4 linked regions of the Homo sapiens genome follow. The protein of the gene in region 1 purifies or fractionates together with the protein of each later gene. This does not show direct contact. Each region holds a gene or a part of one and is shown in the gene's direction. Other genes may lie near its edges.

Region 1 (3,880 bases):
ATCAGCCTTCTGAGTAGCTCCTTCAGCTGTTTTGAAATACACAACACAATATTGTTAACCATAATCACCCTACTGTGTGGTAGAACACCAGTAGGGTGTTCTATTACCGAGTTTTTATATGTTTGATAAATGTGCAAATTATATGACATTGCCATTTTGTTCCAGGTGTATTCCATTCACTTTTGTTGGACAAATTTATAAGTATACAGTACATCATTCTAATAATCTTGGTCAGCACTTATTTTGTACTTCCTCCATACTGTTGAGAATCTTTTCAAAGGTTAACTTATTTAATTATCACAACAGCAACCCGATGAGTAGGTAACAGTATTTTACTGATAGGTAATCTAAAGAAGGAGGCTAAATAAATTGCCCAATTTCGAACAGTGAGAGGAAGAATTAGGATTGAAACACATATAGTGGCTTCAGAATCTGTAACCCTCACGATGCCACTACTACTTCTTTCAGAATACCCTTTGCCTATCTATTCTGTTCCTATGTCATCAAATTATACTTACTTTAAAAAGTATTTGTCTTTATTATTTTTAAAAAAACACAGGGAAGTATTTCTGATCAGGGGCAGTATTGGTTCTGAAAGACAAGCCAGTGTTTTTGAGGGTTTCTCCCTTGCCAGTTTTTCTATGCTGGGTTATTCAAGTCCTAAGAATTGTGTAGCTATTACAGAACCGCTTTAGCAAATGTGTTCCATTAATCAAGGTGATTTATAACAAAATTTCATCCAAGTTTGGAGTGCTCTGAAAACATAGCCAAAATGTTCGCAGGGTCTACCCCTCTCGTGTGTCCCTTTTTTTAGCTATTTCAGAAGCACACTGGTGCAATATTTTACGAAATGAGTTTCTTCCCCTTACCTCTGCATCCTCTAAGAAAAATCATTGTTGTTTATGAGATGAAGATCCTGCTATTCATATCTTGATTGAGCTGCTTAATAAAATGAACAATATTAAAATATGTTTTGAATTCCAGGCAAAAAAAGTTTATTCTTGTATGTAGGTGCTTCAGAAAGCAAAACACCAAAATTGTTCATTGGAACCTAGCCTGTAGAGTTTAGCATATCAAAGAAATAGCATTGTTTGTAGGTTGGCAGAAAAGAACATAAACAAATCATTGGTTAAGTGATGTAGTGATGTGGGATCATTTTATTCTTTCCAGAGTTCTTTTTTGTTTGTTTGTTTTCCATTCCAGAGTTTTAAAAGACCACATGGCAAGCAACGCTTATAAATCAGCTTTATTTTTTACTGTTAGGTATTTGGAAACTAAGCAGTTCCTATTAAGATGCTGTTGCTGGCCGGCCGCGGTGGCTCACGCCTGTAATCCCAGCACTTTGAGAGGCCAAGGCAGGCAGATCACCTGAGGTCAAGAGTTTGAGACCAGCCTGCCCAGCATGGTGAAACCCTGTCTCTGCTAAAAATGCAAAAAATTAGCCAGGCGTGGTGGCAGGCGCCTGTCATCTCAGCTACTTGGGAGGCTGAGGCAGGAGAATCGCTTCAACCTGGGAGGTGGAGGTTGCAGTGAGCCGAGATCGCGCCACTGCACTGCAGCCTGGGCAACAAGAGCGAAACTCCGTCTCAAGAAAAGAAAAGAAAAAAAAAGATGCTGTTTGCTTTCCTTATTTTGAAGGTACTGAAGCCAATAATTCTTTCCTGGGGTTATGTATGAACTGAGCATTGGCTACTGTAAAGATATGAGATTAATTTGTGACTCTCAAAAGAAACAAATTGTCATAAGCTCAGACATCTTGAGTATGTTGCCTTTCTGTATATTCTACAGGAATTCCTCAGTTTGCTGCTTGAAGCCACTGCTTTATCAGAAAAAATAATTTAGTTGGAAGTAGGAGCATGTAGCAAATAAGAAATAAATAAAATGAGTTGGCATTCTCCTATTGGTTTGCACAGCAGGCAAAATGCAAAGTAAACCTCTATTTAATTCCCTTAGGGAATGTAGGGCCAGGGCTCAGAAATACACTATAATTTTGTTATAAAGCCAATTAAAAGAAGAAGAAAAGCACTCATAATGTTTATTAGTATAATATTGTGTGATAATCCAGGACTATGCTTTTAATCCATGGGATAACTATGAAATAGGCATTTTGAAATATGGTAAATTCCTATCAACAAACATGTTGTAAAATCTGCATCTAAACAAACTCCCATGACACCACATCCTCCTATAGGGAAGAGTTGTGTATAGTTACTCCACTCTGAGCTTCATATTATTTTTTCGAACTCATTCCAGTTAGACTTTGGTCTCCACCACTTCACTGATGGTTCTTGTCAAAGTCGCTAATGACTTCTCTTGTTGTCTCTCCAGTGATCAACTCTCAGTCCTCATCATACTTGACCTATTGTTAATATTTGAAATAGTTGTTCTCAAAACCTGGTTTCACTTAGTTTTTGGGACACTGCTTTTTCTAGGTTTTTTTCCTATCTTTCTTCTGAATTTCCTTTATTGGTTCCTCCTCATATCCAAACATTGGAATGACCTTCAAACCCTGAAGTTAACTAAAGGTTCATATTTTAAACTTCTGTTGTTTATCTACACTTATACTTTAGCTGACCTCATCCTGTCTCATGGTTTTATGTACAGTACTTTTTAACTTACTCTCAAATTTATATCAAGTATAACCTCTTCCCTGAACTCCAGAGTCATGTCTAATTGTCTAATATCTTCACTTTAATGAATAATGGTCATCTCAAACTTACTGTATCCAAAGCTAAAATCCTGATTTTCTGTCCCAAAATGGCTCCTTCCATACACTTCCCATCATATGGGGAAGAAAACCCCATGCTACTTGTTCAGGCCACAAACCTTAGAGTTATCCTTACTCTCCTCTTTCACCCTACATCCAATCCCGTAGCAAATCATGATTATACCTTCTATATATAATCAGAATCAAACCACGTTTTGCCACTGTCACTGCTACCATCCATTAGTTTGCAAGATAAACTCATCTCTCTCATTTTGTTGCAATAATTTTTGAACTGTTTTCTTTGCTTATACCCTTCCGATTTTCTGGCATCTCTACCCTTTCCATTATACTCTCCACACCGCAGCTAAGGTCATCCTTTTTGATGATGATGCTTTTTAAGAGCAATTATGTCACTCTTCTGCTTAAAGACCCCAGTGGCTCCCCATCTCACTTACAGTAAAAGCCATAGGCCTTATGGTGGCCTGCAAGACCCTGCATAATCATTTTGCCTGCTGCCTTTCTTGTAATTATTGTGTCATTGGAACACAATAATGCCCATTCATTTATCTGTTGTCTGTGTTTGCTTTCTCTAAAATGTCAAAGTTGAATAGTTGTGACAGAAACTATATGGCTTGCAACACCTGGACTATTTCCTATTTGTCCCTTTTCAGGAAAAGTTTGCTGACCCCCTGATCTAGAGCATAAGATTCTTGGTGACAGGGACTCATTTTAATCGCAGTTGATTTCATATCATTTCAACTGTGATTTGGCATCTAGTAGATTTTTTAAAATTCTTGAAGGGTGGACAGATCTAGATATATATGAATAGGGTGCTAGTTTCTTTTCTACTTCTACTCCTTTTTTTCTACTAGTTTCTACTGCAAACTTGCTCCCAAGTAAATGCATGATGTTACAACTTCTCAGAAGATGTTCATGGAGCCTACCACGCTGCTGAACTGCCCAATCTGTGGTCATTCTAGTCTTCATAGACTTGAAAGCTAAGCTATTTCCAGTGATAAGACTACCTGACCACCTTATGACAATGGCAGGTGAAAGTTGTAGAAAATATTGGAATGTTCCTCTTACGGTGTACCAGGAGAGCAGAGTGCTGATTAAATGTTTCTTTTCCTAAGTGACTTCTATTTAGGACTGCATATTTTTCAGGCCTTTCTT
Region 2 (3,500 bases), on another chromosome or scaffold:
AGTACTAATTGATGCGGCCCATTGGCTCTCCTTTTCCCAGGAATTCCCAGAGAAGCAGGAACTGCATAGGAATATGCTAGGACTTTTGGGGAATGTGGCAGAAGTGAAGGAGCTGAGGCCTCAACTAATGACTTCCCAGTTCATCAGCGTCTTCAGGTTGGTATTTTTAATCCTTTCCCTTTTTGCCTTAGCTGCCACAATGCTCAGAGCTCTAGCGTTTGCTCAGTTGCACAACTGCTCTTAGCCTAGGTTTGCTATAAATGTCATTTTCCCTCGATAATGTGGTTTCTTATTCATTCAATCCTTCGTAAGTGGTCCTTTTGTAATTATATCTTTTTTTTTTTTTTTGAGATGGAGTCTTGCTCTGTCACCCAGGCTGAAGTGCAGTGGCACAATCTAGGCTCACTGCAAGCTCTGCCTCCCGGGTTCACGCCATTCTCCTGCCTCAGCCTCCCGAGTAGCTGAGACTACAGGCGCCTGCCACCACGCCCAGCTAATTTTTTTGTATTTTTAGTAGAGATGGGGTTTCACCATGTTAGCCAGGATGGTCTCGATCTCCGGACCTCGTGATCCACCTGCCTTGACCTCCCAAAGTGCTGGGATTACAGGCGTGAGCCACTGCGCCCAGCCTGTAATTATATCTTAAATGACCTCAAATCCCTTTAGAAGTAGTCTGGGTATATAGACGATATGGGATAAAGAAATAAGTAGCACCTCTTGCTTCTGGTTTTAAGTTGGGGTCCTGCCGCTGGTATCTGAAGAGAAACTGGGGGAGTGGGACTCCATTTTTCTGTCTTTCTCCTGGCAGCAACCTGTTGGAGAGCAAGGCCGATGGGATCGAGGTTTCCTACAATGCCTGCGGCGTCCTCTCCCACATCATGTTTGATGGACCCGAGGCCTGGGGCGTCTGTGAGCCCCAGCGTGAGGAGGTGGAGGAACGCATGTGGGCTGCCATCCAGAGCTGGGACATAAACTCTCGGAGAAACATCAATTACAGGTGTGGGCAGGGCAGGGAGCGGGGATGCGGTGTGGAATATGGGGTAAGTGCTGGGCAGGATGCTCATACCATTAAGGTCTGCTCAGAGCTCCCACCTTCCTTCTGGTCTTCTGTAGGGTTCTGCTTTCACTCATTGATACGTAGCCGCACACAGCACAGAGCATACATAAGGGCACGATCTCATCCGTGCAGCCTGGAGCATTTGTCATACATGCCAACATCTGCATGTACCCAAAGCCTGCTCTTTGCAAACCACTAATACCTACTGATTTGTGGGGAGGGGTGGGGAGAAAATAGACACACAACAGAAAACCATACAGGTGGGCCGGGCACAGTAGCTCTTGCCCATAATCCCAGCACTTTGGGAAGCTGAGACAGGAGGATCACTTGAGCCCAAGATTTCCTTTCTTTTCTTTTTTTTTTTTTTTTGAGACAGAGTCTTGCTCTGTCGCCCAGGCTGGAGTGCAGTGGTGCAATCTCAGCTGACTGCAAGCTCTGCCTCCTGGGTTCACGCCATTTTCCTGCCTCAGCCTCAGAGTAGCTGGGATTACAGGCACCCGCCACCACGCCCGGTTAATTTTTTTGTATTTTTAGTAGAGACGAGTTTTCACCGTGTTAGCCAGGATAGTTTCGATCTCCTGACCTCGTGATCCGCCCACGTCGGCCTCCCAAAGTGCTGGGATTACAGGCATGAGCCACTGCGTCCAGCTGAGCCCAAGATTTCAAGACCAGCTTGGGCAACATAGTGAGACTTCCTCTTTACGAAAAATTTTAAAAATCAGGCCAGGTGCAGTGGTTCACGCCTGTAATCATAGCACTTTAGGAGGCTGAGGCGGGCAGATCACGAGGTCAGGAGTTCAAGACCAGCCTGCCCAACATGGTGAAACCCCGTCCCTACTAAAAATACAAAAATTAACCTGGCGTGGTGGCACATACCTGTAATCCCAGCTACTCAGGAGGCTGAGGCAGGAGAATCGCTTGAACCCAGGAGGCAGAGGTTGCAGTGAACCGAGATGGCGCCACTGCATTCCAGCCTGGGCAACAGACCAAGACTCCATCTCAAAAAAAAAAAAAAAAAAAAATGAGCTGGGTGTGATGGTGCACACCTGTAGTCCCACCTACTGGGGAGGCTGAGGCAGGAGGGTCACTTGAGCCCAGGAGGTCGAGGCTGTAGTGAGCCAACATCATGCTACTGCACTCCAGCCTAGGGGACAGAATGAGACCATTTCTTTAAAAAAAAGAAGAAGGTCAGGCGCGGTGGCTCACACCCGTAATCCCAGCACTTTGGGAGGCAGAGGCGGGCGGATCATGAGGTCAGGAAATCGAGACCATCTTGGCTAACGCAGTGAAACCCCACCTCTACTAAAAATACAAAAAATTAGCCGGGCGTGGTGGCATGCGCCTGTAGTCCCAGCTACTCGGGAGGCTGAGGCAGGAGAATGGTGTGAACCTGGGAGGCGGAGCTTGCAGTTAGCCGAGATCGCGCCACTGCACTCCAGCCTGGGCGACAGAGCGAGACTCCGTCTCAAAAATAAATAAATAAAAATAAAAATAAAAATAAATTAAAAAAACAAGAAAACAAAACAGGGCCGGGCACAGTGGCTCACACCTGTAATCCCAGCACTTTGGGAGGCAGAGGCGGGCAGATCATGAGGTCAGGAAATCGAGACCATCTTGGCTAACGCAGTGAAACCCCACCTCTACTAAAAATACAAAAAATTAGCCGGGCGTGGTGGCATGCGCCTGTAGTCCCAGCTACTCGGGAGGCTGAGGCAGGAGAATGGCGTGAACCTGGGAGGCGGAGCTTGCAGTTAGCCAAGATCGCGCCACTGCACTCCAGCCTGGGCGACAGAGCGAGACTCCGTCTCAAAAATAAATAAATAAAAATAAAAATAAAAATGAATAAAAAAAACAAGAAAACAAAACAGGGCCGGGCACAGTGGCTCACACCTGTAATCCCAGCACTTTGGGAGGCTGAGGCAGGCGGATCACCTGAGGTCAGGAGTTCGAAACCAGCCTGGCCAACACAGTGAAACCCCATCTCTGCTAAAAATACAAAAATTAGCCAGGCATGGTGGTGGGCACCTGTAATCCCAGCTACTTGGGAGGCTGAGGCAGGAGAATCACTTGAACCTGGAAGGCAGAGGTTGCAGTGAGCCAAGAACTCGCCACTGCACTCCAGCCTGGGCAACAGAGTGATACTCCATCTCAAAAAAAAAAGAAGAAGAAGAAAACAAGAATCGTTCATAATCTCACTCCCTGAAAGAGAACTCCTGTTGACATTTTGGTGTGTCTCCTTCCAGCAGTGTTTCTATGCACAGATTTCATTACTTTAAGTCAAGCTGGCATCAATTCCTACTGTTTTGTGACTGACTGGCCAATCACCAGGCATGGATCTCCCTCGTCATTTTAGGACGGAGTCACTTTCTTTGTGCCATCCTGTACAGATGGACATTTCAGTTGAAAACCCATACTGGGAGGAACAGGCTGACATTGGTAGCGT
Region 3 (3,500 bases), on another chromosome or scaffold:
CCAGCAGCTAGCAGGCAATGGAGCAATGCCTTCAACATTCTGCAGGAAAACACATTCCAAGCTTTCCTGCAGATTCTCTATTCAGCCGAATTATAAATCCAAGGATGAGGGTAGAATAAAGATATCTACAGGCTGCAAGGTCTCAAAAACACATACCTCCCATGCACCCTTTCTCAGGAAGCTACTGGAAGATGTGTTCCACCAAAATAAGGGAGTAATCAAAAAAGATAAAAACGCGATATAGGAGCACCAGTAGAGGACAGACGTGAAAGGGGTACCCAGGATGGTGATGAAGAAAGATCCCAGGATGACAGCAGTGCACACCAGACAAACCAGCCCAGATTTGAGCAGGTCAGAAGGCTCCAGGGAGATTTCTTTGGGTAGTTTAAATTTTGATAGACTGTCTAATGCTTTTGAACCTCTTAAAAGGAGATTTAAATAGTTGGTGAAGCATTTGGGGGTTGGATTAGTTATAAGAATTATACATAGAAAATTAAACAAAAGGACAAGACATTAACTCCAGGTAAAACAAAGTTGTGAAGGAAGAAAAAAAAATCAGAGTTTACTATTTGGCTTATCTCTGAATAATAAATATTCAGTCAAAATGATTTAAATACTGGCCGGGTGCAGTGGCTCATTCCTGTAATCTCAGCACTTTGGGAGGCCAAAGCGGGCAGATCACATGAGGTCAGGAGTTCGAGATCAGCCTGGCCAATGTGGTGAAACCCTGTCTCTACTAAAATACAAAATTTAGCCGGGCATGGTGGCGGGCACCTGTAACCCCAGCTACTTGCGAGGCTGAGGCAGGAGAATCGCTTGAACCTGGAAGGCTGAGGTTGTAGTAACCTGAGATCGTGCCACTGCACTTCAGCCTGGGTGACAGAGCAAGACTCCCTCTCAAAAAAAAAAAAAAAAAAGATTGAAATACGGATATAACCAACATTATGGTTTAGCTCCTGGAATAATGAGGAGAATGGGAAGTACGTGTTTGTGGTGGAGTCCTAGTAGGAGAGAGAACTAGAAATTCTCATCTTCTTTGGTAGATAGATGATAAATAATGCCCCAAAATGAAAAAAAAAATGGAAACTAGCAATACAAGCATGTTATTTAAGGACATAGAATTAAGTACCAAAATAATCAACTAAGGTAGATAGATGTTCTCATCTCTGGGGAAGGGTAGTACAGGGAGGTGGGTTGCAAGGAGTGCAATTTTTTCTTAACAAAATTTGTAAAACTGTTGGACTGATTTAACTGTGTGTCTATATAACTTTGGTTAAAAAAATAAATATTAAAAACCAAATTGATTAAAGACTTAAGAGCATGAAGTTTGGAAACAGATCTGGGTTTGTTTGAGTCTTTCTTGCCACTTATTAATGGTGTGACCTTGAGCAGTTTATTTAACTACACCTATTTTCTCATCTGAAACATGAGGACATTACTTACACATTTGTTGTAAGGATTAAATTATGTAATTTTTTTTTTTTTTTTTTGAGACGGAGTCTCACTCTGTCGCCCAGGCTGGAGTGCAGAGGCACAATCTCGTCTCACTGCAACCTCCACCTCCTGGGTTCAAGCAATTCTCCTGCCTCAGCCCCCTGAGTAGCTGGGACTACAGGCACGTGCCACCACGCCTGGCTAATTTTTATATTTTTTTAGTAGAGACGGGGTTTCGCCATGTTGGCCAGGCTGGTCTCAAACTTCTGACCTCAGGTGATCCACCCACCTTGGCCTCCCAAAGTCCTGGGTTACAGGTGTGAGCCACCACGCCCAGCCAATGTAATTTATTTATTTATTTATTTATTTTTTTGACACGGAGTTTCACTCTTGTTGCCCAGGCTGGAGTGCAATGTTGCGATCTCGGCTCATCGCAACCTCTGCCTCCCGGGTTCAAGCAATTCTCCTGCCTCAGCCTCCCGAGTAGCTGGGATTACAGGCATGCGCCACCATGCCCGGCTAATTTTGTATTTTTAATAGAGACAGGGTTTATCCATGTTGGTCAGGCTGGTCTTGAACTCCCGACCTCAGGTGATCCTCCCACCTTGGCCTCCCAAAGTTCTGGGATTACAGGCATGAGCCACCACGCCCAGCCTCAATGTAATATTTTTAAGTGCACGTAGTATAGTATGTAGCACATTCAAGCTATTATTTTGGGAGATTACTTCCCTAGTTTAGAGCAAGCAATTAAAATCACAGGAATAGAAAAAGGTAAACTAGCCAGGATCTCCCATTTGTCTAGAGTAGGTGGGATGATTTCTGATTTACAGGGTGATCCCAGAATGGACTATCAGGGTGTTTTGAGCCAGGTTGATTGAGCACTGGGCTCCAACTTATTGTTAATGAGAAATGGCCCAACTTGGACCATGACTTTCCCATTTGCAGGTCTTAGAATAATTTTTTTTTTAATTGAGACAGGGGTTCGCTGTGTTGCCCAGGCTGGCCTCGAGCTCCTGGGTTCAAGTGATCCTCTGCCTCAACTTCCTGAGTAGCTGGGATTACAGGTGCTTGCCACCATCCCCAGCACAGTCTTGGAAGAATTTTAAGAAGCTTACTTCATTGAAAAAAGAGGAAAGTGAAAATGTGCTAAGTATATGAAAGGGAAAGCTTGGATTAAAGATGAGAAACATTTTTAGACTATAACATGTTAAAGAGAGATACTATAGGCTTTATGTTTTAGTCAACTTCTTTTACCTATAGGGACCAATAGATAAAGTCTTAACCTGGAGACAGGGGTTGGATGAAATGGTTTCTAAGAGGTTTATCCAGGTTTTGTGGAAACAATAGGAACAAGACAGATAAAATAAGGGGTCTTATTAAAAAATAATGCTCTAAATATTTGAGATACTAGAACACTATTTTGTTTTCTGTCTCTTTTGATTGGGAGTTTTTATGTGGAAGGAAGCTACTAACTATCCCACCCTATGCAGAGACCCCAGAATCCAACAATAGCGTGTATACTTCCTTCATGAAGTCTCATCGCTGCTATGACCTGATTCCCACAAGCTCCAAATTGGTTGTATTTGATACGTCCCTGCAGGTGGGTGAAATCCTCTTTTCCCTTCCCCCTTTGGAGCCTGTGGTTTAATACCTCTCATCCTATCTCATCCTAAGGGTAATATCCTTATCCTTCTGTGAAGTTAGTCTCATGTTTTACCCAACATGCCCAAACACTGTTCTTTTTTTACAGTCCTGCCCCTGTGGATTTGCCTTTATGATTATTACTGTCTTGGCTACAGGTGAAGAAAGCTTTTTTTGCTTTGGTGACTAACGGTGTACGAGCTGCCCCTTTATGGGATAGTAAGAAGCAAAGTTTTGTGGGTAAGCAAAAGTTTCTGGAACACAATATTATTGGCATCTTGTGCTGGGCAGGGAGACAAGCTTCAGGCAGTGCTGAGGGCTCTGTCTTGTCCTCTAGGCATGCTGACCATCACTGATTTCATCAATATCCTGCACCGCTACTATAAATCAGCCTTGGTAAGGAACCTTAACCCAATGACCAAAAT
Region 4 (3,500 bases), on another chromosome or scaffold:
TTTAGTAGAGACTGGGTTTCTCCATGTTGGTCAGGCTGGTCTTGAACTCCCGACTTCAGGTGATCCACCCACCTCGGCCTCACAGAGTGCTGGGGTTACAGGTGGGAGCCACCATGCCCGGCCAATTTTTTTTTTCTTTTTTTTAAATAGAGATGGTCTCCACCATTTGCCCAGGTTGGTCCCAAACTTCTGGGCTCAAGTTGTCCTCCCCCCTTAGCCTCCCAAATTGCTGGGATTACAGGCAGGAGCCACTGCACCTGGCCTCCTTGTGTTTGTTTTTGTTTTTAAGTGAAAGTGAGTTTATTAATAAAATAAAGGAATAAAGAATGGCTACTCCATAGGCAGAGAAGACTTTGATATTTCTTATTATAGGAAATAATGATTTATTTGCAAAACACTTCCAGGTGGCAAAAATACTTTTTTAGAACTTCATTTTTTGCCTTCCATAGGTGTACACATTTGGTAATGGGGGTGGTTTTATTCCTTTGTTTTGAAAATTAATACTGTAAGATTCTTTTATCCTTATTTATGTGTAGAATATGTCTTTGTGTTTGATTTGGCAGCATATTATAGTGAAGAAAACACCTTTAACTAAAATCAAAAGATCTGGTGTCGGCTGGGCATGGTGGCTCATGCCTGTAATCCCAGCACTTTGGGAGGCCGAGGTGGGTGAATCATCTGAGGTTGGGAGTTCGAGACCAGCTTGACCAACATGGAGAAACCCCGTCTCTACTAAAAATATAAAATTAGCCGGGTGTGGTGGCGCATGCCTGTAATCTCAGCTACTCTGGAGGCTGAGGCAGGAGAATCGCTTGAACCCAGGAGGCAGAGGTTGCGGTGAGCCGACGTGGTGCCATTGCACTCCAGCCTGGGCAACAAGAGTGAAACTCCATCTCAAAAAAAACAAAAAAACAAACAAAAAAAGATCTGGTGTCTAGTTTGAGTTTAGGTGCATACAAGCTGTGTGCAGTGTGAACTTGGGCAAGTTACCAATTTGTGAGCTTTACTACTTTTTTATTTATAAAATGAGAAGAATAGTATTTTTTCTGTTACTTTTATAAATACCAAATAAATTCATGAATGTGAGAATATATCAGTATTTAATATTCTAATAATACTGTCATGTCTCCTGCCTTGCTCATTTTATTGAAAAACTGTTTTGTGCAACTTGTGCTTAACAATAAGGAATTTTATAGGTAAAATGACAGGTGCATCCTCCTGCCTTTAAAAGATACGAAATCTAAGCAGTAGGGGCCTGGTGTATTTTAGTTAGTGCTGCTTCATCCAAGTCTTGCTGAACTTTAAAAGTAACCAAACTTGATGAGAACATGTTTAAGCACCTCCTCATATTAAGGTATTATTTACTATTTTCTGAGTTTTTGAAGCTATTTCTTCAGTATGATGGTGGCTGCTATTAAAAACACTTGAAAGTTTATTATGAATTAACCTCTCTCATCATAAGCCTGGATGCTGTATACTAAATCCTGTTCTGGTAACCTATGAAAGTCTTCTCTTACTCCAAGAATAATCTTGTTGCACAGATGAAGAATGTCTGCTGCAATGCTCAAGGTATCTTCCTTTTGTAAGAAGCCTTTTTTTTTTTTTTTTTTTTTTTTGTGAGGTGGAGTCTTGCTGTGTTGCCAGGCTGGAGTGCAGTGGCACAATCTTGGCTCACTGCAACCTCCACCTCCCGGGTTCAAGCGATTCCCCTACCTCAGCCTCCCGAGTAGCTGGGACTACAGGCGTGTGCCACCACGCCCAGCTACTTTTTTGCATTTTAGTGGAGACGGGGTTTCACCATGTTGGCCAGGATGGTCTCGATCTGACCTTAGGTGATCCGCCTGCCTTGGCCTCCCAAAGTGCTGGGATTACAGGCATGAGCCACCACGCCCGGCCAAGAAGCCATTTTAATTATAAACTTTGAAGGATACTATTCCTTACTTTATTAGAAATATACCATAATCTCCTTCATAATGACCTGTGGATATTTGTAGGACTTTTTTTTGAAAATAGTAATGTTAAAGCATCTCAGCTTTATAGCATCCACTGCTTGATTTTCATTGCCATCATTCTTAGAGCACCTGTATGAGTCTGCATTTGTCAGCAGTACATATCCTTCATTCTGTAGTGCTCTTACAGCTAGGAGCAAAGATGTGTGCCTCAAACATAAACCTATAACATTTACAGTTTTTCTTTCTTGTCTGTTAGGGAGTTAACTGGCTTCTCAGTCTATGTAAAGGACAAGGAAGTGAGTCAAAATGTGTCTAAATGAATGTCTGTTAATATATGGTAAACATCGCCACATATTCCCTCACATTTTAAAGGAAAATTCCAGTGTTAGATTATTAAATCTTGGTAAATCTTCACCTTTTAAGAGTAAACATACCAACATAGAATTTCTTACTCAGTTTTTAGAAAATGATGACTGCTTGTGTTTATAACTGGTGGAATGTGGCTTTATGATGTTTTTAAGTGAGTATCTATTTTTAAAATAGTTGACTTTTTTTGTTTGTTTGTTTGAGATGGAGTCTCTCTCTGTTGCCCAGGCTGGAGTGCAATGGCATGATCTCAGCTCACTGCAACCTCCACCTCCTGGGTTCAAGCGATTCTCCTGTCTCAGCCTCCTGAGTAGCTGGTACTACAGGCGCGTACCGCTGCACCTGCCTAATTTTTTGTATTCTAGTAGAGACGGGGTTTCACCATGTTGGCCAGGCTGGTCTCGATCTCCTGACCTCGTGATCCACCCACCTCGGCCTCCCAAAGTGCTAGGATTAGAGGTGTGAACCACTGCGCCCGGCCAATAATTGACTTTTTCATTAGGTATTACTCAAAACTCATTCTTTTAAAGTGACAGTCAAGTAGCTTAAAGGAAATTTTGATATTTGTTGAGAAAGATAGTCCATCAGTCATAGTTTGTTAATATAACCAGCAGTCAAGAAAGGATCTTAAATTTAACTTTTTATTCTTTACAAGTATTGACATCAATCCTGGAGTTTTCCTTTTAAGTATTTTTCTTTGCATTTTCAAAATAGTAGCCTAATATGGAAAATCTGAGGCCAAGTAAAAAATAGTTTTATTTTTAGTATTTCATTATTCCATTGTTTGAATTAGTGTGAATCAATGCTATATTAGATTGTTTTATATAATGTAGGTCTATAATTGGAACAGATGTTCTTTATCTTTAGAGCCACTCTTTCTATAAATATCTGGCATACCAAGCCACAGTTAAATCGAAGAGATTGGGGGTTGACCTTTTTTCTTTTGTGCCCTCACATTGACTGCTTCCTTAGGTTAATGATCTAGCAAATACTGTTGTGTTTAAAATCTACTAATTTTGCCAGACACGGTGGCTCACGCCTGTAATCCCAGCACTTTGGGAGGCCGAGGTGGTTGGATCACCTGAGGTCAGGAGTTCAAGACCAGCCTGGCCAACATGGTGAAACACCATCTCTACTTAAAATACAAAAAAAAAATTAGCTGGGCGTGGTGGCGGGTGCCTG

What was found. Proteins that work in one complex are often made in the same cells at the same time.
Region 2: the proteins of IMMP1L (region 1) and ZER1 purify together in Homo sapiens (affinity purification with mass spectrometry; 2 studies listed by BioGRID and IntAct, with this or other methods). This does not show direct contact.
Region 3: the proteins of IMMP1L (region 1) and PRKAG1 purify together in Homo sapiens (affinity purification with mass spectrometry; one large-scale study listed by BioGRID and IntAct). This does not show direct contact.
Region 4: the proteins of IMMP1L (region 1) and ANAPC7 purify together in Homo sapiens (affinity purification with mass spectrometry; one large-scale study listed by BioGRID and IntAct). This does not show direct contact.

What each region holds. Positions count from the first base shown.
Region 1 is NC_000011.10:31,450,476-31,454,355, reverse strand, and holds part of IMMP1L (mitochondrial inner membrane protease subunit 1), read left to right. Parts: intron 1-3,880. UniProt on the Homo sapiens protein: Catalyzes the removal of transit peptides required for the targeting of proteins from the mitochondrial matrix, across the inner membrane, into the inter-membrane space. Known to process the nuclear encoded protein DIABLO.
Region 2 is NC_000009.12:128,737,428-128,740,927, reverse strand, and holds part of ZER1 (protein zer-1 homolog), read left to right. Parts: intron 1-40; coding exon 41-156; intron 157-808; coding exon 809-997; intron 998-3,500. UniProt on the Homo sapiens protein: Serves as substrate adapter subunit in the E3 ubiquitin ligase complex ZYG11B-CUL2-Elongin BC. Acts to target substrates bearing N-terminal degrons for proteasomal degradation with the first four residues of substrates being the key recognition elements.
Region 3 is NC_000012.12:49,005,277-49,008,776, reverse strand, and holds part of PRKAG1 (5'-AMP-activated protein kinase subunit gamma-1), read left to right. Parts: intron 1-177; exon of another isoform or gene 178-351; intron 352-2,924; coding exon 2,925-3,034; intron 3,035-3,184; exon of another isoform or gene 3,185-3,233; coding exon 3,234-3,315; intron 3,316-3,385; coding exon of another isoform or gene 3,386-3,412; coding exon 3,413-3,471; intron 3,472-3,500. UniProt on the Homo sapiens protein: AMP/ATP-binding subunit of AMP-activated protein kinase (AMPK), an energy sensor protein kinase that plays a key role in regulating cellular energy metabolism.
Region 4 is NC_000012.12:110,390,209-110,393,708, reverse strand, and holds part of ANAPC7 (anaphase-promoting complex subunit 7), read left to right. Parts: intron 1-3,500. UniProt on the Homo sapiens protein: Component of the anaphase promoting complex/cyclosome (APC/C), a cell cycle-regulated E3 ubiquitin ligase that controls progression through mitosis and the G1 phase of the cell cycle.